3 separate regions of the Homo sapiens genome follow, and all the other regions are linked to region 1. The links come from fine-mapping of genetic effects on gene expression. A gene starts in region 1. Each other region holds a variant in brackets. All regions are shown on one strand. Distances are from middle to middle.

Region 1 (8,357 bases):
TTTATTTTTTATTTTCCCAGCATTGAATAGTTTTTGTGTTTTGGTTGTTCTAATGGCAAGAGCTCATCTCTGATCTTTTGGCTAAGAAAGCAAAGCCCCATGAAAATGAATGAGAACCATTTTGAAAGAACTAAAGGAAAGATTGCTATTGATGGTCAGGGAGTATATTCTATTTAATTCATTGTATTCTAAAATGGTAGTCCCCAAGTCTGATCTACTTAATGCACTACAACTATCTATTCTAAGAACTAAGGTGAAAGGTGAAAGGCTCATATTTCTGTCAAATTTTTCATAGTAAAAAATATTAAGAGGATTCCTTGTAAATCATTGTTGCTTAACATTTAAAAACTCACACTCTCTTTTGAGAAACATAAAAATCTCGAAGTTCTCCTTCAAAGCTATTTAAAATATATAAATAAATGATCTATTATAAACAACTAGTAAATGAAAATTTTTAAAAATCATATTTTTCTTTTGATCTTGGAAGATGCTTTACATTGATGCTGTTACTCCAATCATTAGAAGTCAGCATGACAATTAAAGTTGTCTGTGTATCTCGCAAACTTTTCTATCCTTGTAAAACAACAAAGAAAAACAATTGAGTAATTTCACCATTGTTTTTTGTATTGCTTTATTTTCATAACCAGAAGAGTATGTAAAGATAGATAGATAGACACAGATAGATAGATTGATAGATAGATCGATAGACAGATAGATAGATACAGGCTCTCCTTTTAAGGGAGGAGATGTTGCCTTCATTCCCTTGAATATTATTGATTTAGATAATTCCCAAAGAAATGTATAACCAAAACCACATGATTTGAAAAACTTCTCAAAATTTCCTTTAATCAGTTTAAACAAATTACTGCCAATTCTATTTCACTTAGTTCTTCATAGGGCTATTTAAAATCAGGACACCAAGTTGGCATGGCTGCCTAATACAGAAGATAGAATTTACTCAAAATACTGCAACTCAAGAAACTCAGTTTGAAATATATTATTTAAGGACATATACTGTATTGAAACCCAATTCACATCATGCTGGAATGACATCTATTATAATAGCTAATGTTTGGTGAAATTACACAGTCCATTGAAAAAAATCTAAAGTTCTGGCTCCTAGATATTCCATTGGCCTTATGGTATACCATTGATAGCAAGATACTTCCAAGAAATAAGAAATAAGATAGTGAGTACAACTGTGCCTTATTTAAAAAACTATTACATATATTATATTATAATATATACAATATCTATTATATATAATATATAATATATGATATATAAGATAGTTATTGTATTATTATATGTATAATATATAATATATTTATATATAATAATCCTAACATAATATATTATGTTAATATATAACATAATATAATATTAATATATTAATATAATATATAATATATAAATATAATATATTAATATATTATAATATTAATATAATATATAATATATCTATAATAATCCTAACATAATATACTGATATATAAATATATAATTATATATAAATATGTATGATATATATAAATTTATATATCATATATATCAAAATATATATAAATAATGATATATATAAATATATATGATTATTATATATTTATATATAATAATATATATACTATATATAATATACTGGATATATATAAATATACATATATAAATTATATATAATGTAGTCCATAAAATTTCCTAAACATTTTAAATGTTTCTTTTAATCTACAAGGTAGTGAAAATATATTTAAAAAAATAAACTAACACAGTTTGATTCAAGTGACCATTGTGCCTGAGACTGAAAGAGTAATTAAAATTTTTGCACATATCTTAATGTCTTTTCTAGGTATATACTGATCTTTTCTAGGTATATACTGCTCTAAAGTTTTAGAACACAAAGACTACATGTATCTTGCACAACAAAATTCAATCATAGCATCATCACTTGGATTCATCTAAAAATAAATGTTTAAACTAAAATTATTTAATAATCTCATTTCTGAAGCCTAAATATTATAGTATATATGATTAGAGTATGCTCTAAAGAGCTCTCTAATCAAAGGTTTCTAGCTCAACATTTTTTAAAAGTATTAACAAAGTGGCCTATGGAAAAGATTCCTTAAGGCTTTAGAAAGATATACAGGACATGTTGAAAAACTAAGGTACATAATACAGAAGAGACTCACACAGCTTTCACCTGAACATTTAACTTGAGATTATTTAAAACAGGGCATTTCTATCTATTAAAATCCCCATAGTTGTGAAAGACAAAAATTTATTTTGTACAGATTAGGTATGATATTTGTATATCTAATATTAGTACTACTGGGCATCACTCAGTATGAAATAAGAAAATGTAATAGATATTCAGTAAGCATTTTACTCACTAATTATGATTCCATAATTTCTTAACTTTTTGTTCTCAGATGTCAAATACTTACCTAGAAACTGCCACTCATTTGGTTGCTATGAGTTTTAAGATCAGTTAGCAGGTTTTTTTTCTGTCTTTCAGAGAATTGTCATCTTGGGTTCTCCCTCAAGGTAGTGAAAGTTAACTTTGTTACCCATCTGGGGATTTATAGTACTTATACTAGAAGATGCTCCAAGGTTTCAGAAAGGAATTAATTACTTTCAATTTGCACAATTTAGAACAAATATCTGGCTTTTCCCTAAGCTTAATGATTTTCCATTTCACACAACTAAAATATAATAGCATTATTTTATAATCAAGTTTAACTGATGGTCTATGATAGTAGAGCGATTTAGTATTTTGACAAAAATCTTATGAGACATGAAGTCATTCAATTTGCAGCCCCAAACTGAAGCTCAAACACAACATTTTAAAAGTATTTTCTGCCTATACCTTTGACTGCATGCTACTTTAAATAGAGGGACAAGACTAAATGGTCTATCTGGTTGTTCTTACACTTTATAAAGAGTCAAAAGCAAATTTGAGTTATAAATATGCACATCATAGTGATCATTATTTTATCACAAATAAATATTGATTTGCTTAATCAAAGAGAATACTCTCCTAGAATAAGAGCAGTATTTCAATCTGCAAACATGTTTCTTAATGTCACTGAGCATTTAGCCTATCTTCACACACACATTTCATAACCTTTCAAGGACAATCTTCTACATCACATTTTAAGGAAATACACTGAAAAAGCAATCCATTTTGCAATAGCATTTTACATTACTACAAATTCACGAGGTTCAACCTTCAATGCCCATGTACCTTTCACAAAACTATTGATCATTTCCTATCAATGCTTTACAGGATTATATCACAAAGGAACACATAATGCATGTATGTGCATCAATGCGTAAAGGAGAGGATGCATTTCTGTGCATAGTATGTGAACTGACAATGCCCACTTGCCCAGTCCTTGCTTTACTCAACTTCTTACACATCATCAGCCAGCTGCCCTGTTGATGATTCCTTGCACCTTATGCGCTGCTTTATCATTGAGTCAGATTACTACCATTTCTGGTCCAGAACTCATTAAGAAAAGTCCTTTTTCAAGCAAGGTCTTTGAAATGTAGTTGTACACCTATAAAAGAACTATCTGGAGCTCATCTTGAGAGAGAGAAGATGAATTTATCCTCTGTCTTTAGGCTTTTACTTACAGAGCCACACCTTTATAAACAAGTTCTGTCTGTCATACTGACAGGAAGGAGATATGCAAAATGTAACATCTGGAGTCATAAAATATAATGACCTCAAATAACATTCCAGAAAGAGAAAGGAAAACTAGTTCTGGTTAGGGAGAAGATAAAAGAGGAAAAGGAGTAAATTTACATCCTTAAAACAAGAGTAATAGAAAACCCTACCGGGTTTTTCCAGTAAGTTTTGTGCAGCAGCAGCAACAACCTAATCAATATGTGCTTCCTCACCCTCTTGTCCCCAAAGAGAAACTGCTGGGCCCCTCTCCACCGACTCCCCAGGAGCAGAAACTACTGCCCCCAAGGAAGGGAGAATTCAGAAGCGTGGGGAGGGGGAAAAACAGGTATATGTGGTTCTAGCATCCTCATCTTCATATCAGCTACCAGCCTGAAACTACATTCAGGAACCAGGCTCCCAGACATTCCCCGGCCCTGGGCCCTGCCTGAGCGCCAGAGAGCTTGAGGAGCCTGCAGCATAGTTCTCAGACCCGAAACAATGACCTCCCCCGTCCAAACCCAGGCACTCTTGCGCCAAGGCCCTAACCTCTCAGCGAGACCTCTTTGGGGAAGGACAAGAGATGCTGCCTGATGGCCGAGAGAAGACATGCCAGGCTTCTCTGCCAGAATGAGTTGTTGAGGGTGGGATGAAGGTGGTCAAGGAGATGGGCTCTTTATTTTTAAAACAAAAAACAAGGCAACCGGGACCACCAACATCAGTCACCCTCACTCCCCACCACTGCCTCTATTCCTTAAGGACTTCTTCCCAGGCCGGCGGCGGCGGCGGCGGCGGCGGCGGCAGCTTGCGATCATCAGGATTGGAAGTGAGAGCGAGTGCCCGGGCCAACCTCAGCGTCTCTCAGGGACAGCGCAGGTGGGCGCAGCCTTGGAAGGTCAGCGAGGCCAGAGCTCAGAGTTCCACGGGGGCCCGGAGAGTGTGCGTGTGTGAGTGAGAATGCGAAAACGCGCGCGCGCCGGGCAGAGGGGCGCTCGGCGAGAGGGTAGGCGCGGTGACAGGGGTACCCCAGCAGCCGAGGAGAGACAGCCCACCCCACCCTTTAAGCTAAAGAGCTGGAGGGGTGATGGAGGCTGCAAGACGGAGAAACTTGATGCAAAACAGACAGGCTCCCCCCTCCAAGACGTGCCGCCACGCTCTCAGACACGCTCCCTCGCCTCCCGGATTACCCACCATCAACCACCCCACCCTGCAAAATTCCCCCACCGAGCCCTAGGATCCCAGGCGGGTAATTACCTCTCCCGGAGGCGGAGTGGGGGGCGGCAGCAGCAGCAGACACTTTTAGCCTGACTTTCCTGCGTTCGCTTGCGAGCGTGTGAGCGTGTGCGCGCCCAGGAGGAGCTGTAACCTGCTATTTATAGACCGAAGCCTCAGTACCCGGGGCTGAGAACCCGGAGGAAACTAGCAGGCGGCGGCGACGGCGCAGGGCGCCGGCCGCGGCTTCGCGAGGCTCCAGCAGCTCCCCCAGCCTCTGGCTTCGGCCGCGCTCCCTGCTCGCTCCTCGCCTACCAGCCCCGCGCGCGCCCCAGAGAAGTTGTCACCAGCGCGGCTGGCTCTCCGGCTGCTCACACGCCCCCTGGCACAATTGCTACTTTCTTCCACCCCAACCCCCACCCTCCCCGCTCCTCTTCCTCCTCCTCTGCTCTCTCCAAGCGGTCTCCTCCCAATGTCACCAGCGACCGAGTAGAGGCGGCCGTGGCAGCGACAGTCGCGCAACTGGCGCTGCTCGCTTCCCGCTACTGATAGAGCGGAGATGGTGGCCCGGCTGCCCACCCCGAAATTACCACGCTGGCTCCGTGTGCTCACACCCCGTACCCCGACCCCTTTCTGCGGCCCCTCTGCCCGCTGGGTCGCCCACCCAGACTGGGCTGTGGGATCACCGCTACCGCGACGAGGGGGGACCCGAGGCCGCCACGCTGCTGCGGGGGCAGGAGAAACCACAGAGAAAGAACCCGCGGGAGGAAGAAAGCGCCCCAGACCCCGGCCTATGGCAGCGCAGTCCCTAGACCGAGGGTTTTTGGAAGGGGCTTGGGATCCCTGCTGTCACTGCCTGCGTCTAGGCATCCATTCACGCCTGCTGGACCCCAGTCTGCAGCCGCGCTGGGACCCCTGTCTCTTGCCCCTCCTCCCCCTTGCCCCGGGCAGAGGTCGGGCTGAGGAGACCAGCTTAGAGCAGCCCTCGGCCACCCACCGCCAGTTCCCACGTCGCGGCGGGTGACTGAGGCCGAGATGCTCCCAACTAGCGTATGACATGCCTTTGATATCCCGGGTGCGTGGGGACAAATCCGCCCTGAATGTGTTGGGGTATCAGGAAAACGGGGTATGTAAGCAAGCAGTCTGGACGGAGACTAAAACTCCCCCACTTCCTAGCCCCTAACAAGCCCACAGGGGAAAGCACGCACCCTGGTTATTCCGGGCTGTGTAGGGTGTGGGGCAAATGACTCTCCCCATCTGCGCTTTACAGGTGCCACCTGGCGGCTCTCTCGGAAAGGTTTTGATGGAGCCGTTCAAAGGTAAAGGTGCCCAGAGCCAGCCCATCAAGACACCCCAGCCCTTCTCCCTGAGGGCGCTTTAAAATCACATTTTAAGTAAAGCAGTGTACGAATGCTTGTACACAAGTGTTACATTTGCCATGCAAAAAGACTGGAATCTCAAAGTCAGGACAGTGAAATCAATTTGGGTTAAGTCGGGGCTTAACAGTTTCACAAACCAGGAAGCTGTATGTACCCCCAGCTGTCACCCCTGCTGTCACTGCCCGCATCTAGGCATCCTTTCACTCCTCAAACCTTTGACCACCACATTATAAGCCTTGCCAATGAGGACAGGGACTTTGGGTTTGTTTTGTTTTGTTTTGTTTTGTTTTGTTTGGTGGGGGGAGTTGTTTGTTCGTTTCATTTATTTTTTTCATCACTCTGCTCCCAGAGCTTGGGACAATACCTAATATTCTGTAGTTTCAATAAATGTTTATAGAATCAAATAATAAACACTATAGGCCAGAAACTGCTTGGCGCCCCCGAAGCCCTTCCTTTTGCTTCTCTTCAAGCTTTTTCTCCTATGCTCAGCCTCTACCCCAAGTGAGCTGAATGCAGAGAGATAGGAGAGTGAGGAACAAATAATCCCTGTCAAGATGTGGATCAGCTTTGAGAAGCCTTCACACAGTTAGATTTCTCCTCCATGGGGCAGCACTGAACACACCCATCTCCAAGCAATGGGTAAGCCGTGTTCATAGAGATCTGCTGGAAAGATGATACAACTTTCTCACTGGGCAGTTTCTGATTTTTCTCACAATAGAGAGAGATTGAAATAATATCAGGACATTAGGATGTCAGAGCTTTGCTACTAAATTGGAAATATGGTTAACATATCTGTCCTCTAAGTGGAAGAGTGTGTGTGTGTGTGTGTCTGTGCGTGTGTGTGTTTATGAAGACTACAGCAGCAATGCCAGAAATACCAAACCATACCTCCTAAAAGACTGAGTTGTAAAATAAATGCAGTTACTGATTCTATGGAAATGGACGTTTAAAGTGAGATGCTTAGAGGACCCTATTATAATTAAAGTCCAGACATGGACCATGCTGACAAAGTCCTTTTACAGGGCGGCTGAAGAATATGTGACTTACTTGTGTACATCACGTAGGAAGTTTGAATTCTCAGAAAAGAGAGAATATGAATCAGGATGCCATCAGATGCATGTACCACAAGGCATTTTTAAAAATCCATCAATCATCCTGATATTTACCTTTTTTAGTTATTTGGTGGCTTTTTCCTTGAATAAGCCTGGAGGATTCAGATGCTTCCGTGGTTTAATAAACTCATTCAGCATTCACTTTTACAAACCTTGAACTTTTGCTGACTTGTACCCCCAAAACATAACTCCATTTGCCAATGAAGGACAAAATATTTTTCATTTCCTTTTGAAATATCTTTGTAGGGCCAGAAGTCAAAGGTGATTCCCTGTAGTTACCTTGCTGTCTAAAGCAATAAAATCAAGCCAGGATCTACAGGGTTGGTGTCACACTCGCCTTTGCAGTGAAGCAGCCTACACTCTCTCCATAGATTCATTGTTCCTCTAGATTTTTATCTCAGGTGAGATTAATATGACATCATATCTACTTTTATGATCCTTCACTATTCAAAATCTCTTCTAGAATATAGCACCAAGCATCATATAGGTTTTTTAATGCTTACTCAGTTATGTTAACAATAACTTGTAAAGTAAGTCCTTGTTTTCATCTCAATTTTTAAAAACTTAAAAATTACAGAAACTTTGTTATGTATACATTAGCATCATCTCTTGTGTGTATATTGTGTGTGTATGTCTGTGTGTATTTAAATTAAGGGGGATGTTGTTAGAAATAAGAACTAAAGTAAAAAGGATAAATTATTGTAAAGATACTTGGCTGCCCCATGGAACCCCAAAACAAGAATGCAACTGGGCACTAGGAATGACTGGAAACAGACAGGCCATTAGAACTTTCTCTGTCTCTTTTCCCCCACTACATTAACTGTCCCATTCTGTATCTCTCTCCCTCTTTCTCTCTCTCCCCACATACATTGTCTCACTCTCTGCTTCTCTGGTGTGCACTAAATTGCATGGTGGCTAACGACTCTTAAACTTTATAACTTGTGAACCAGTTCCAAATTCTCCAAGTACTGTGATTCTTCCAGCTACCAAACC
Region 2 (8,000 bases), 440 kb before region 1:
AAAGACAAGTTATTTTGTCATTTGTTCGTTCTAGTAAATTACCAATGCATTGCTTAATAATCTCAGGTATGTGCTTCTTAATGACAGAGGATGGTAATGCAGCATTGCTACAGACTATGAACTAACTTATTTCAGCTGTTCATTCAAATCCAGAGATGGGGCGGGGGTGGGGGGGAGGGAGAGAGAGAGCAAGAGCGAGCGAGCCAGCAAGAGAGAGAGAGAGAGAGAGATTAATGTAGGCACACAGCATCTCACCTCCACAATTTCGGTGCTGGAGTATCTTGTCAGACTCTGCTCCACGGGGTGGATTACGGAGATCTGCACCAGTGTATTCAGTTTACGATCACGGACAGGAGCCACGAGATCCTTGCATGCTGGCAACGGCAGAGGAGACAGAAAGAAAAGAAACTAACACCATATCTCAGGGAAAACTTCTGCGCCGGGCTGAAAGTGAACTTAGCTACAGCACTGAAGGAAATCTCCTGGGGCTCAGGCTGGTTTTACAGAGGAAGTCCCTTGGAAGTACCTTACAGAAATAGGAAGTCACGTGCTGTGGAGCTGAATTGAGAGTTCATTTCCACTGACCACATTTGCAGTTCATGCAAGTCTTTACTGGTCTGAGATCCCAGCTCTAATGCGTGACTATGCACACATGGCTCAGAAACCTCAGTGACTTTAATTAGCCATTAAGCCCTGGGCTTTAAGTCACACTCCTTGAGGATGTGAAAGTTGATTTGGGCCATATCTGGGAAACTTTGGTGTTCCTTATTGACATGGGTTGGATTAGATCAAGTGTTTGAATTCATACTTGGTCCTTACCTATGTATTCACTAGAACTGGCCTCCCACAGTAATACACACCAACAGAAACAAGGAGAGCAGTTTCTCAACCACAACAGCACACAAGCAGGGGAAGAGGAAGCAGAGGTAGGATTTTTAAAGCCCTGGTCTGGAATTCAAGCTAAGCCTGGAGGAGATGGGTTAATTCTTGCCCAGGGGCCACAAAAGTTAAAAACTTTCCCTTGAGACACCAGGCTCATATTACAGACCCTCGCCACCATACCATATTTACTTGAATATTTTCTCCTCTCACATATCATTCCCCCAATTTGAGGAAGAAAAATCCAGAAAAATATTCCTTTTAAGCAAGTCTGAATCGACTTTCCTCTCTATCCCCGCCACCCTCGCCTCCCACCTTTGAAATAATAATTTTACTCCCTTCAGCTGAGTTGCTGAGATGTAAAGTGCCCTCACTAGAGGTGGTTCAAGTTAAATTCGGCTGGTGGCTTGCTGCAGGCTGGAGCTATGGATGGGGGAAGTAGCCCTGGGTCCTTGATTTCATGGTGAGGGCATGCAGGGTTCTATACCATCCCTACCCCACTTCTCAGACCATAACAGGAAGGGAGAGAAAGATGAGGTATTTAAGGTATGTTGTGGTCAGAGCTTGCAAGGTCCTTACCATTGGTAACAAAGGTAATATGGCTTAAATCTGAAACTTGAAAGCAAAGGAAAGTATAGATGCAATTATCACCTTTCAATTGTTTACAGATAATCTCTTTCAGAAGTACAAGGAGATAGAAAAAGCAGGAACTTCGGAATGAAACAGGCTTGGTTTTAGTCCAGTTCAAATAGCTAGGCAACACTGGGAAAATTATTTAACTGCTTAACTTCTTACCAGACTTTCAGATCCTGCTGCTTCTGTATGGCGTTTTGTCATATACTTTTTTTTCCTTATATAAACCACATGCCTCTAGTAACAGAAGAGAGCTTATGAAAGCATGTATGGAAAAAACATAATAGCTACAATGTATTTAACCCTTACTATTTTTGAGGCATTTTGCTAATTATCTCTCTATTCCTTAAAATGGTGCTTTGAATTATTTCAGTTTTACATAGAACTAGAACTAGAGGCTTGGAAACATGAAGTGCTCACATTTACATTACTAGAATTCTCTGGTAGCTTACATCCTACCCCACTGGCTTCATTTCTCTTCTTGGCATGCCGACCTGCCCTCCTGCACAATGGCACCTCTCTTTGGAAGACCCACCGCCACACCACGATTATTACTCAACCCAAGAGACTTAGAGTTTTAAAAAATACTGGTGCCAGGTTTCAATAATGTCAACGTATCACCGGAAGGAAAGAAAAAGCTAGATTTAGATTTTCACTGTTCTTTGGTGGTTATTTTGATCATTTCCTTTACTTGCAATATGAATGTGTTTAATTTTATTGCTCATAAAATTCAACTGTTGGTTTTCTGCTTACAGTAAACAGCTCTTTTTCCGTTTCCTGATATTGACATATATCTATCAGAATTTTAAAGCTGAGGCCACTGTGTTTCAAATACAGGCATCTTGCCCACTTTCTGCTTGTAGCCCCATCTTTTACCTTGTGAGCTCATGACACCTTTGCTCAAAATAAGTCACTTCTTTTCTGAGTTCTTATCAGACTTGATTGTGGGCTGTGGTTATTTCCCAGAAATGAGCAGCTGTTCTCCATTTTATCAGAGAGACTCTCACCCTCGTTCCCCATAAAAACAGAGAAAATTTCTATTACACTGAAATGTTCTGTCCAACCCAATTTGCACATTCCCTAATACTGATAAAAATAATGATGATGCTTTGTATTTTTATTATATTCCACATCTAAAAACAATACGGTTACATCTTGTCAGGAAAACAATAATAGTTACATCTTGGGCTGCACTTTTTTCTTCCTACAGCTCAGAGGATTTACTGTACCCTAAGTCTTATGCAGCATGATATCCTGGAGAGAACCCGAGATCAGGCAGAATTCCTAAGCTGTGCTCCCAGATTTCCTGCTTTCTAGTTCTGTGGCACTGAGTAAGTCACAAACTCTGACACTTAATTGCCTCATCTATCTACCTACCTCTCAGGGTGGAAGTGAGGAAATTGGGCCTTTTTATAAATGGACTTTTCTATGCAAAAAAAAAGTTTACTAATATCATACTAATATATATTAATATCAACATTTACCAATATCTGGTGTTTTATTATTGTGTAAAATTGTTTTTATTGACTCAGTCATACTCAGCTTTTTAAAAGCTGTTACCAGGTCCAATATTTCTTCATAAATAC[C/T]AAATTAGTACATGAGTCATTGCATTTCATAAGGTGAAACCTATTCACATCATGGATCTGTACATACTGAATCAGTCCCACCAGACGGCTGATAAATAATGAGTGATTGGATTGTTTTGTGAAGATATTACTCATATGATCACTATAAAATCTAATCCGTATGAGAATTATTTAGCAGCCAATAAAGAATCCTGAAAAATCTGTTTTCAGGAAAAAAAAAAAGTGAATGGGTGAGGTGGCTTATGCCTGGAATCCCAGCAATTTGAGAGGCCGAGGCCAGGATGACCTGACATCAGGAATTCCAGACCAGCCTGGCCAACATGACGAAACCCCATCTCTATTAAAAATACAAAAATTAGCTGGGCGTGGTGGCACACTCCTGTAGTGCCAGCTACTTGGGAGGCTGAGGCACAAGAATTGCTTGAACCCCAGGGGCGGAGGTTGCAGTGAGCTGAGATCACACCACTGCACTCCAGCCTGGGTGACAGAATGAGACTCTGTCTCATAAATAAATAAAAAGTTATATCTGTCTTCCAGCTATACTTACCACTGCTCATTAACCAAATATAATTCTACTCTAGGAGTGGCCTGCATCTGTGGCCTTCATCAGCTCAGAAGACTAAAAGAAAGCAATGCTTTGGGATTTTGCTTCTGTTTCGTTTTGTTTATTTAAGAATTCTACCCACTTCAATCTAATGGTCAGTAACAAACAAATGCTACTGCAATCCTTCATTCATCAGTAGATTTTTAATTTCTGCCTTCTTAATGGCTTTGCTTAGTATTGAATTGTTTAAAAGTGTTCTTAGACCTCAGAAGAGTTTAAATATGCAGGATGTTGATAGATGGGGATTCTAGTGTGCTTGTATCCAGTGTATTTTTTATTGAAATGTGGGAAAAATAATAATACAGAAGGAATATATTTTTAAACCATAATTTGTGACTTGTCATCAGAAAAAAAATAAAGAGCAATAAGTGACTTTTTATTTCCTGATTACTTTTGCTATGGTAACTAGTAACATGAGGGTTCACATTCTACTATGAGTAGCTGTGAGTGAGATGCCTACAGGCATCCCCAGCTCATATTTGTACAGGAGCCAGGCAGTTTTCACTCTACGAGAAGGAAATCCTCAGTGGAAGCATAATAATAAAAATAAATGGAGGGGGCCACATGCGGTGGCTCACGCCTGTAATCCCAGCACTTTGGGAGGCCAAGGAGGGCAGATTGCTTGAGGTCAGGAGTTCGAGACCAGCCTGGCCAACATGGCAAAACCCCATCTCTACTAAAAATACAAAAATTAGCTGGCCATGGTGGTGGGTGCCTTTAATCCCAGCTACTCGGAGGGCTGAGGTGGGAGAGTCGCTTGAACCCGGGAAGCGGAGGTTGCAGTGAGCCGAGATTGCGTCATTGTGCTCTAGCCTGGGCAACAGAGCGAGACTCCTTCTCAAAAAATAATAAATAAATAAATAAATAAATAAAGAGACTCAATATCTCCGGTGACTGAGACTCTATCTCAAAAAATAATAAACAAATAAAGACTCAATATGTCCAGGGAGGGCTAGGCACTGAACAAACTGGAAAGCTTACACTATGTCATAAGATGGAACCTCTATACAAAGTCATTGCCTGAAAAAATGAAGGCCCACTGTGTCCTTGATTTTAGGATTTCTCCAAAGCTTGAAATCCCCAGTCACTGTGCAGGTGAACACTGGAACAGCTGCACAAAATACATCTGTTTGATAGATTTGGCCAGAAGTTTTTCTGAGGAATAGAAATTGCCAAATTCTAGTCTTGACGCTTACAGCTACTACCTAGCCTCTTAGGAAGAGGGCACAGATTTTCTTCTGCTCCAGTAGTTCTCACTGGAGAGTCCAGAGCTAAAAGGTGGGACTCTTCAGGATTTTTGTGAAATCAAAGATACTGTCTATACCAAAATACTGCTTTTTATAAAATATCAGTTTCTGTTTCCTGTGGCCATTATTTCAAAATCAGGTGAAGGCTATTGAGTCCATGATCATTTCTATCATTCCAACCAATTTTGGCTGGAAGCCTAAAAATACCTCTTGATTCACATCAGAGAGCTCAGTCTCAGCAATAATCAATTTGAAGTAGAACACAACTGTTCATTCAGGTGCTTTTGAGTTCAGCAACACTGCTCGAATTCAAGTAGTTGTAAAGCATACATTAGACAAGGGGGGTGTCAACAAGCAGATGCCTGCCCCAGGCTTTCACGAGAGTGGTGGTGTGAACCACTGAGGCACTGTGAATTGGTGGTCAACCCCAAGTGACCATCTCTTTCCCCCTAAGAAAACTTTCTTCTGTGAAGTGAGGTCTTTTCTCTTGCCTCACTCTTACTTCATCTCTCTTCTTGCCATTCATTGTTAATGGAATCTAACAAAATTTATCCTCTTTCTTCCAGAACAAAGCAGTGGCCACAGGTGCGTGGGAATCAGTGAGGGGGATATGACAAGAATTTCCACATCTCTACAATTCTGTACTCAAAATTAGCCAAAGGAAATTTAGACTTAGAGGAGAAACCACATACCATAGTGTATGGAGGATAAAGAAATTTTTTTTAACTTAAGATAAAACCTTATTTGAGAGAGCTATATATGACTTTGGATGAATTACTCAATCTCTTTGAATCTCTATTCTAGCATCTGCAAAATGGAAGTAAAAGAATGTACTTCATAAATTTGCTATAAAGACAATAAGGTAATGTATATAGAATGCTAATATATGAGTCCCTTTAAATTATTATTGACATTAATATATAGTTATACTGTGCATTAACACAAAAAATGGATTTTATCTATCCTATATTTTTATACTAATCATATGCTCAAGATATTCCAGATTGGTCCTAATTTTATATAAAGTTATTCTTTTTTCAATAAAAGCATTTGTTAAATATATACCTGTGATTTTTTTCACCTTATTTTCAGATAGCTAAATATACATTTTTAAAAGCTCTTTACTAGATCATGTGTTAATTGTGAAAATCAGAGGCATCATTAATATGCTGCTTTCTGTGAAATCAGATGTGTACACTTGCACTTGTAATTTTCACCTCTAATGAGGTACTTCCAAATGAGAAACTTACAATGGAGAAAGCAAACTTGACTTTCTCTCTCCCAGCATATGTGCTACATGTAAATGGTCAACTCACCCTTTAAGCAGGGGTTTAACTAGGAGGTTAGGGTTCCATTACTCAGTGGATGATGGCCCACAGGGGAGCACTTGCTTAACTACTGAGATGTCCCAAAGGGTCAGGGAAAGAGTTGCTTCTCTGCTCTGTACATTTCCTTCATCAAAAAGGAAGACTATGGATGCTAATAAAGCTTCTTTTTCTTGCAATTAAAACTAAATGTTACAGCTAGAGCCCAATATAGTCTGATAGAAGCATACCTTCGAATCTAATGAAAGCTCACCTCTTATGCCCTCTACAGACACTGCATAGGAGAAATGGGAGAGATAAATCCATGCCTGTTAAGAGCAAAAAGGGCCAGAGTACAGAGGACATTGGCATCCTAGAATAGAAAAGTGGCCTTAATACAAACAGGGGCCAGGCACAGTGGCTAATGCCTGTAATCCCAGCACTTTGGGAGGCCCAGGCAGGCGGATCACTTGAGGTCAGAAGTTTGAGACCAGCCTGGCCAACATCGCACAACTCCATCTCTACAAAAAATACAAAAATTAGCTGGGCATGGTGATGCGCGTTTGTAATCCCAGCTACTCGGGAGGCTGAGGCACGAGGATCACTTGAACCAGGGAGGCAGAGATTGCAGTGAGCTGAGATTGCACCACTGCACTCTAGCCTGGGTGACAGAGTGAGACTCTGTCTCAAAAACAAAACAAAAAAACCCAGAGCTTTAGGGAAATACCATTTGGCTTCCCACCTCCCTCAATAGCACCATTCTTATCTCACATCATTTCCCTAAGGATGTGCAAAAGACTTTTGCAGCCTAGGGGGCAGTTTTTTATTCAGAAATTCTTAATGTTTGTTCAGGTTTCTCAAAACTGTCACATATATGTCCTTCCTCTTTGTACTTCAGAAAATTAGATTCCACTAATCAACTGATAAGCCAATTTAGGTTATGTTTCCAGTCCAATAAATTATTGGACTCCATTATATGGTTTCACAGTTAACATTCTATACCAGTGATTACATCTAGATTAAATCAGTTTATATCATACATTAAAAGATATATAGAGCACTTAAAAAGCCTAATAGCCCCTCTAATTACTTTATTAGTATAATATGCTTTTCTATTTTTAATCTCCTTTGCCTTTTTTTGTTTTTTATTCTTCCTTCCCCTCAAGAATTTTAAGACAGCAATTTTCTGAAGCCTAGGATGTCAACCTCTCCAGCTCAGATCTCCTGAGTACATTCAGAAGAGGATGCTTCCTAGGCTCAGTGCACTACAATCCATGATAATTCAATTATATATAGTAAAATGACAGAATGTACAGTGTCCCTGCCTATACTAATATCCACACAATGAGAATTGCACAAGCAGTTGGAAATACTCTCTTCACTACTATCTGTTTATGGTTATTTCTTAGAAGAATATGTCTCTATATCATGCTGAGTTGATTTATGGCCATGAATATATATCCTCCCATCTTTCTTCTGTATTCTCTGTAAAATCTTTGAGTCTTTAATTCATTGAGAGTAGCTCTCATCTTGTCCTTCCTCTCATTTTAGCTTATTTTCAATCGGGCAAGCCTGCTTTTTATAATTTTCCTTTGACATTATTCTTTTTTCTTCTCTTCTCTGCCATCTCATATTTCCTCTCCAACATATGTGTTACTCTCATCACTCTGAAAGACGAGGTTATCAAAGTCACCACTCATATATTTTATAAGACTTGGGACTCTAGGAGTCAAGCACACACTGCTCT
Region 3 (8,151 bases), 150 kb before region 1:
GCCAGGATAATCCAAAACCTAGACACTGTGGATCAGATGACAGATCAAGTTCAAGGAGAGCCAGCTGGGACTAGGAGAATTAGACAGGTGCCCCTGGATTGAGCAAGAAAATGTTGAGTATTGACAAAGTTATCAGACGAGGAAAGGTTAGAAAGGTCCCAGGAGCCTAGAAGGGCAGTGTTTACAGTCCAGGAAGTCAAATAATGACACCAGCATATTCGATGGATTAAGGCACACTCTGATTCTAAAACAGATCATTTCCTCTGTGCCCTTTTCCATGTGTCTGATAAGACAGAGAGTGTGCCTGGTCCTACTAGCATTTATACCATCCTCAAGGGGCCAGAAAGCCCCAGGAGAACTTTCCAAGAGATCCTCATGCAACAACCCACCTTGTTCCATAACTGTGCCCAGCAGCTCAAGGGAACAATTATAAACAAGGATACCACCCCCAAAGAGTAATAAAATCTAGCTGAGGGGACAAAATATACACAAACATCAGTGCAAGGCACTAACTGACCCAGGCTGTAATTCTGTGGTACAGATACTCCCTTTCCCCACCCCAGCCCTGACATCTGTCTCCTACACAAACTACACCTTCAGTGCTTGCCCAACTTTGTTGCTTACTTCACTGCTTACACCCACTTAAACTGGGTCATCCTGGCATCTGCAGTGCCCACTCAACCCTGCGTCCCTCTGCCTTGCCATCAGCTACTACTTATGTTGTTCTCCAAACATTTCAAAACCAGGCACTACACAGCCATCGACTTCTGATCCTAATTCACCATGTCCTTTACAGCCAGCCAGTAGAGAGGCTCAGTAAGAGGGCAAATTGGATAACACCAAGGCTGTCCAAGAAAAGCAGGTTTATAGTTCCATTCTTTTATTGTAAAATTACTTATTAAATTACTTCCCTTTGCATGTTTTACTTGTTTTTATAACAGTGCTTTCCTCTAGCAAGGAAGTAGATAAAACCACAGTGTGCAGCCCCGCACACTCCACTGTATGTGTTTATTCTTAGAATGGTAAGTCAGAGAGAGTGGAACACTGGCAAGCTTTCACCTGCTTTTAGTTTAAAAGGATGTCAGTTACAGTTTATTATCCCAATGATGCATTTTTAAAAATTCTTACAATCATATTATATACATGTGATGTTGATGTCAATCATAAGCAGCCTAAGTTACATTGTTATTAAAATTACCTGTTGTACAATGCTTCATATTTTCCAGGAAAAGGAGACATTTAAATTATATGGTTTTGGTGAAAACACATCGGTAACTGAACATGGGATGAACAACCTCTATATCATTCTCCCTTTTAATACTGTTAGGCTTTCCCCAACCCACACCAATGCCATCAACCTTGCTCCCAGAAAAGCTACCTAAATTCTCTGAGTTGCCATTCATAAAAACAGAGTCTGGGATCAACTGTGAAAGTGAATTATATACATGAGTGAATAAATCAAAATAATACTCTAACGAAATAGGTAAGCCAAGTTTATTGTTTCTGGCAGTAGGCTTTAACCATGTGATAATGTTCTGTTGATTTTCTCTTAAAAATGTCATCCAATTACATAAAACTGTCAATCAATCTTAATCAAACAAGATTTGGACAATGGATTCTTGCTGGGCTTTTCTATATGATTAAACGATAGGAACTTATTTGCTTTATTACTTTATATGGCCAAAGCATATACTGGAAACCTACAAGAAAAACAGGAGACAAAGGTGAGCTACAAGCAAGGAACTGAAGAAAATGCAGCCATGGAAATTTCCCAATATCATGAGTTATTCAGATTTCCAAGCTGGATCAAGTAGAAATCCTAGAACATGAGGCATGGGTAAAAGTTCTTAAATAGGGCCAAGACATTACAAATCCCTTTCTAGGCCATGACTTACTTAAATCACATTTTGTTCCTGTATTCATATGTAAATAACAATAATAATAAAATCCTTATCAGATAAACTCAGAGTTTTAAAGACTACATTTGAGAATTTCAAATTCCTAGAATACTGAATATTTAACAAAACAAGGGCTATAATTTAAGGTTAGCTTCTTATAATATGAAACATGCTTGAATTTAAAAAGAGTATAATGCAAGAAGACTGGCTGTGAAAATTTTAAAATTCTAATCTGCTTATAAAACACTCAAGCTGAAATAAATCTTGGCTGTAATTAAGATAAGTAACCACAGCTATAGGGCTACTGTTAGCATGAACATGCCCTTACCAGTAAGAGAAAACAATTAAGTTACAGATCTTACAAGTTATAAACAATTTTTTTCTGAAACAAATCCATCATTTTTATTGATTTGAAATCAATAGAGTTTTCATAAATTATTTCTCATAGAAAAAAAGACATACGAGATTAATTTTTAAATCTTAGCACTGAAAGGGTAGGTCACCATTTCTCCTTCCAGTGTTATTCTTGTCATAACTATTTGAGATTTCAATATCCACAGATATGATCTTGCCTTTTGTCTTAAATGATTGTCTCCACTTTATTAGGACTATTCATTTTCATTACCAGACCCTAGATCTTGTCACTACCAATATCTGGACTTTCTGCAGATCTCAATCACAAGCATCTCATTTCCTAATTTTTCTAACTCCCATTCTGTGTCCAACAATCTTTAAGCTGCATCAGGGTCTACTGAGGAATCTGGGTTTTGGCTAAAAACCTACTGTGATCTTTCAGGCCTAACCCCAGGCAGTTACAAAGACTTTTCCTGGCAGACCTGAACTACCTTCCTCATACCAGACTTGGTGTGCAGCTAGTGCATTGCTGAAAGGAGTTGCAGTCACAGACTCAAGCCCCCAGGGCTGGCCATGCTCTTATGCATATCCGTGTTCTTAGCTCAGCAAGAAGGCCTTCAGGAACCTCTGCTAAGAACTTATCATTTGGAGGAGCTGAAGGGGAACCTTGAAGACACTTTTCTCCACTCTAGCTCAATAATTTTTTACTCCTACCCCTTCCTTTTCACCCTTTTCCCTGGGCCCCTAGTATATAAAACTAAAGGAGACTTTTGTTCAAGACTCCCTCAGCAGTAAAGCAATTCCCCACATGTATTGATTCACTTGACCCTCAGATATCCAGTACTGTTTCACGGGTAAAATGGACAGAGGTGGTGCATGGGTGGGGTGGAAGTGGGAAGTGGTAGAGACAGTGGTCAGAACTTTCTCTGGTTTAGCTTCTTGCTTATACTATCACAGTGAGTGATTAAATGTTAGAGCACTATTTCATTGTGGTTTATTGTCATAATCAGCTATTCTGAAGCATGGTAGCACAGCACAGCTCTCTCCAGCTCAGCTTGGCCCCTGACATCTACAATCCATTGTACAACCACCTTTTCAATATACCTTCCCTCCTCATGTCCTCATTTCCATTCTTATCCAGCTTAAATGTCATGGTTGTTTATTGCATTCAGCCATATCTTTATACCTCAAACTACCATGACTCTCTTGTGCTTCATTATGCTCACTTGGGAAAATCATGAGCTTGGTAATCACAGAGCTTGGTAAATCACAGAGCTCCACCTACTCTGTCCTTTTACCTGTGTGGTTGAATGTGTCTGGAGAAAATCCCATAACCATACTGGCCAGCGTTGCTTTATATCCATGATCTTTATCTTCAATGGCAAATATATTATACATCCCTGATCCATTCACTCATGCATATACCTCAAATTCTATTAAATACTTTTGTCTCCTATTAAACATCTGACACCCCCTCCATCTTTATGTCTCTCTGACACTGTGCTTCCTATTTCAGTAAGAAAATATAAGCAACTGGAAGATATGCAAGCTCCCATCAAAAGGTATGCAATATCTAGACCCTTTTAACAACCTCATCTG[C/T]ACTTGTATATCTTGCCTCTTCTCCATCATTGTGAGTCAACTCTATATGCATTTGTCTAAAACTAACTCCAATTTATACTAAATCTCAACTCCTCTTGCCTACTCAAGGGCATCATTTTAGCATTTTTTTTCTACAGTTTTCCCCTCTCCACCAGTTCTTTTTCATCAGCATACAAACAATCTATTACTTCTCCCATCTTAAAAGAACAAAACAAAAAAATTTTATTCAGCAACCACCCTCTTTCTCTCTCTCCCTGTATAGTAAAGCATCTTACTAGATTTGCCTATACTCATGGTTTTCAAATTTTCTTCTCCAATCCTTTCTTGAAACCATTCCAATCAAGCTTTGGGACTCATCACTTTATCAAAAGTCTGATGATGCCAAGTAGTATCTTCTAAAACCGCAACAGGGAGAAAAAAAACCTAGTGTCACAATAAATGAGGAATTTGAACAATACATGGATATGGGTAATAATAAACTTTTTATTATTTACAATGAAGGCACCAAATTTAACTTAAATAATGAGAGCACTAGTTGGACACATTTTATGGCTTCTCTTTTCCATAAATTCACAGTACTGAGTTGAATATGGTTTTTATAATTCTTTTTTGTGCTGTATCTTGTATTCCTTCAACTCAATCTATAGGAATTGAAGATGAAACCAGTCAATCAGATTCCTATAGAATTGTACTTATTTCCATCGTAGGATAGAGAATTACTTCTTTTCTTCAAAGTATCTGTTCTAAATTCTATTAACCCCTTCATTCCATCTTTTGGGAAAGAAAAGAGCAATCTTATTTAAGAAAACAGCTAGTCATTGTACACTTGCCCAATTTTTAACTCATTTTTGCCCTGTCTTATTTGCATGAAATTTTTTTTTTATTTTTTGCAGCAGGTGCATTTTCCTATCTCAGATTATAATCTTTTCTTAGAAGTAGGTCACATGACCTTTCTGTGAAATTATGTGTGGTTTTGTGTTTGTGCATCAGTGAAATGAATTTATATTTTTATACCAGCTTTCAGTATAAAAACTATCTGGGCCAAGGATTATTAGATAATATTATACCTAAAATATTATAAAATATTGATACCCAGATGATTTAAACATTTATTATCTCAGAACACATTATGGTTAAGATCATGTATCAGTCAGGGCTATAGATCAAAAACAAAAGAAACAGGCTCTGGCTACCTTAATCCATAAGAAAATTTATTGGAAAGATAACAGCATTAATGAAAGGCTAGAAGGCCAGTCTTGGGGAACTGGTGGGAGGAATGGAGCCCCAAGAAAGTAGGAATCACAGAAAAGTTTATATGGCAAGAGCAAACTGGTCTGCTTGCCACTCCTGGAGCAGCCTCTACTTGAAAGTTTCAGAAAAGTGCAGGTGGTAAACAAGGTATGTCATAATTACCACTGACTGTTCCAAAGAGGAGAGGATATCCCACCCATTTGGTCTCCATACTGGTTAGTAGGTACTCCCTCCTGCCAGCCTCTCCACAGTAGGAGATGCCCCAAAACAGAGGGTGGAAATGATGTATTATAGCCAGGAGAATGAGGAAGGTCAACTCTAAGGCTCCTTAAAGGAATGCCACATGGATCCAATCAGGTCAAGGGCAGCCACACTCTAACTGGTGCAATCAGGCTGGCATGATCATCAGATACATGCTGAAAATGAAAAATAATAACAAGCAGCACCGAGCAGCCAAAAAAAAAAAAAAGGTTTCATGGAAAGAAAAAGGGATTTGTCTTGGTAACAGTTTGGGCTTGTTTCTATTTCACCAAATACATATTAATATATATGAAATTGTAGAATTTTTTGTTAAACACTAGTTTGAAAGACCATTTCTTCTACTAGATACCTTCCTGAACCATTGCTTATAATCAAGCTCAGGAGTAAGGAGTTAGTACCTCTACCTTGATGTGCAGAGGACACAGTCGACTATGGAGAGCCTGAAAATCTGGTACTGTAGGTGATAAACCCTTCTAGACATCTATCAAATAGACACTTGGGTAGGTTGACTACACAGGTGAACTACAGAAGTTTCTCAAAATTGAATGAACACAATAAATATTTGTATTTACTCAAATATTCTAGATATTTTGATGTCTACTATACTATATATACTAGTACTAAAAATGTACTCACATTTATTACATATTATGAGAGTTCAACACAAAATGAACTAGGTGAAATCAGACTACTGGAAAGAGTTAGGCTCCCACTCACACTGAAGCTTAGCCAAGTCAAGCCTAAGTTAGGAGCCTGAGCAATCTGTTAGCAGTCTTACCAATACAAGGTTTTCCTGGCTTGTAACCCCACACACAGACCCTGTCATCTTTTCTGTGCTTTCATGGCTTTGTCCTCTTTAAGCTTTAGTAGTTTCTTTAAAAAAAAAAAAATCATTCTTTCAAGTTCAAATTGTTTGTTACAATTGGACACAAAAGACTCCATATAGGCACTGGGTAAAGTTGATTTCTTGTGTGTGGTTCACAGAATTCTTGTTGATGAGACCCTCTTAAAAATCATCTACTCTTCTTTATTCCAGTCTTTAGCATATTCCAGAAAGCCTAATTACTTATTGCAAAAACATAAAAATAGAAATCTCTTCACTAGATTATGATTTAAAGCATGAACTTCGAGGCCAGGCGCGGTGGCTCACGCCTGTACTCCCAGCAATTTGGGAGGCCAAGGCGGGCAGATAACCTGAGGTTGGGAGTTCGAGACCAGCTTGACCAACAATGGAGAAACCCCATCTCTACTAAAATTGAAATACAAAATTAGCTGGGCGTGGTGGTGCATGCCTGTAATCCCAGCTACTCGGGAGGCTGAGGCAGGAGAATCACTTGAACCTGGGAGGCGGAGGTTGCGGTGAGCCGAGATCACGCCATTGCACTCCAGCCTGAGCAACAAAATTAAAACTCCGTCTCAAAAAAAAAAAAAAAAAAAAAAAAGAACTTTGAATTTACTTTGGGTTCACAAACTATAACATTTTTAAATAAAGATTGATTTCTGCAAAAAAAAATTTCCCTAATTTGGTTGCATAGCATTAGTGATTTTGCTGCTGACTACATCTGAAGTTAGATAACATTGAAGATGTTTTTATCAACAAGTGCTAATATCTATCATGTTGAAGAAAAACTAGTTTATCTAGAGCACTTGCTCTGGAATTAATAAGATGTGAGTTTAAGCTTGGCTCAGAAACTTAGTAGCCATGTTATTTTGTGCAAGTTACTTAACTTCTATCAGCTCGATTTCCTCACCTGCCAAAGGAAGACAATATGTAATGATTAAAAGGAAGAGATTGTGAAAAAACTTGGTACAGAACCTGTTACTCTCTCTCCTGCCCTCTTTGTGAGTCTTTCAAGGCCATTTTTATCCATTAGTTAATGTAAATGAAACTCTCACAATGTCCTCAACTTGTTGTATTGGCCCTTCCAAACACAGCCACTTTCTCACAAATAACAAGTATGTATTTGAAATCTCAGAATTTTAAATTAATAAATAGTTTTCCATTTTTAAAAAGATAAATACCTTACAATAATGATAATACATTCTGCAGCAAGTTAGATTCAATGGTTAGGTCACAATACTATTATGGCAGAAGTACTATTAAAGGAACATTATGAGGGGCAGAGATGACAATGCCAGCCTTAAACAGATTGTTAAGAAGGCTAGAGAGAACAAGAGCTTCAGGAGAATAAAAGAAAAATGTGCTCCCAAATTTAGTGATGAGTCCAGGGAGTCCCATTAAACAAATTAGCAGGTTTGGAACATAGGGTTTGATGTTTATGGGTATATAAATAAAAAGCTTGTTTTCTCTGGGGCAGCTTAATTTACTACAGCATGTCTCATCGTTTCTGAAAGAATGAATGTTGCAATTATTAGTACCCCAAAGAATTAGTTCATCCTGGGATAAAAATGGGCTCCTCTCTGAGGGCAGAATGCATTGGTACCAAACTCTGGAGCATAAAGAAGACCAGATGCATTCCAGTAGGTAAAGGGGGCTAACTCAGGAAACAAGTGAACTAGCAGCACCAGACTAGTAACTCAGAAGAGTGGCTGATTTCTGGAGCTCCACCATTTGGTGCACCCCAGTATGAGAACATTACCTTCAAAGTGTGGAAGGAGATGGTGTATCCAAAATCTGGCACTTAACTAGCCAGGAGCAAGGACTGACCTTAGAAGCAAAATGGGGTGGTACCTCCCCAAAACCAATGAGAGTGTGTCGGTAGGAATATCTATTAGAAGAAGCTGTGTTTCACAGAGCAGAGGACTCAAGGCCTCACCAGCAACACAG

Evidence for each region. PIP is the estimated chance that this variant, and not a neighbour inherited with it, causes the effect.
Region 2: its variant is fine-mapped to the expression of INPP4B in fibroblasts (GTEx, PIP 0.98).
Region 3: its variant is fine-mapped to the expression of INPP4B in whole blood (INTERVAL, PIP 0.97).

What each region holds. Positions count from the first base shown.
Region 1 is chr4:142,841,294-142,849,650 of GRCh38, forward strand. INPP4B (inositol polyphosphate-4-phosphatase type II B) reads right to left here and starts at 5,008. Exons shown (of 26, transcript NM_001101669.3): 1 at 4,916-5,008. The region is part of intron 3 of USP38-DT (USP38 divergent transcript); the gene reads right to left. RefSeq lists an enhancer at 5,765-6,351.
Region 2 is chr4:142,404,951-142,412,950 of GRCh38, forward strand. It overlaps INPP4B (inositol polyphosphate-4-phosphatase type II B), which reads right to left. Exons shown (of 26, transcript NM_001101669.3): 6 at 256-374. Among named protein-coding and RNA genes, the nearest start is that of INPP4B, 440 kb to the right of the region's middle. The variant C/T (reference allele first, on the strand shown) is at 3,099.
Region 3 is chr4:142,695,950-142,704,100 of GRCh38, forward strand. The region is part of intron 2 of INPP4B (inositol polyphosphate-4-phosphatase type II B); the gene reads right to left. Among named protein-coding and RNA genes, the nearest start is that of INPP4B, 150 kb to the right of the region's middle. The variant C/T (reference allele first, on the strand shown) is at 3,852.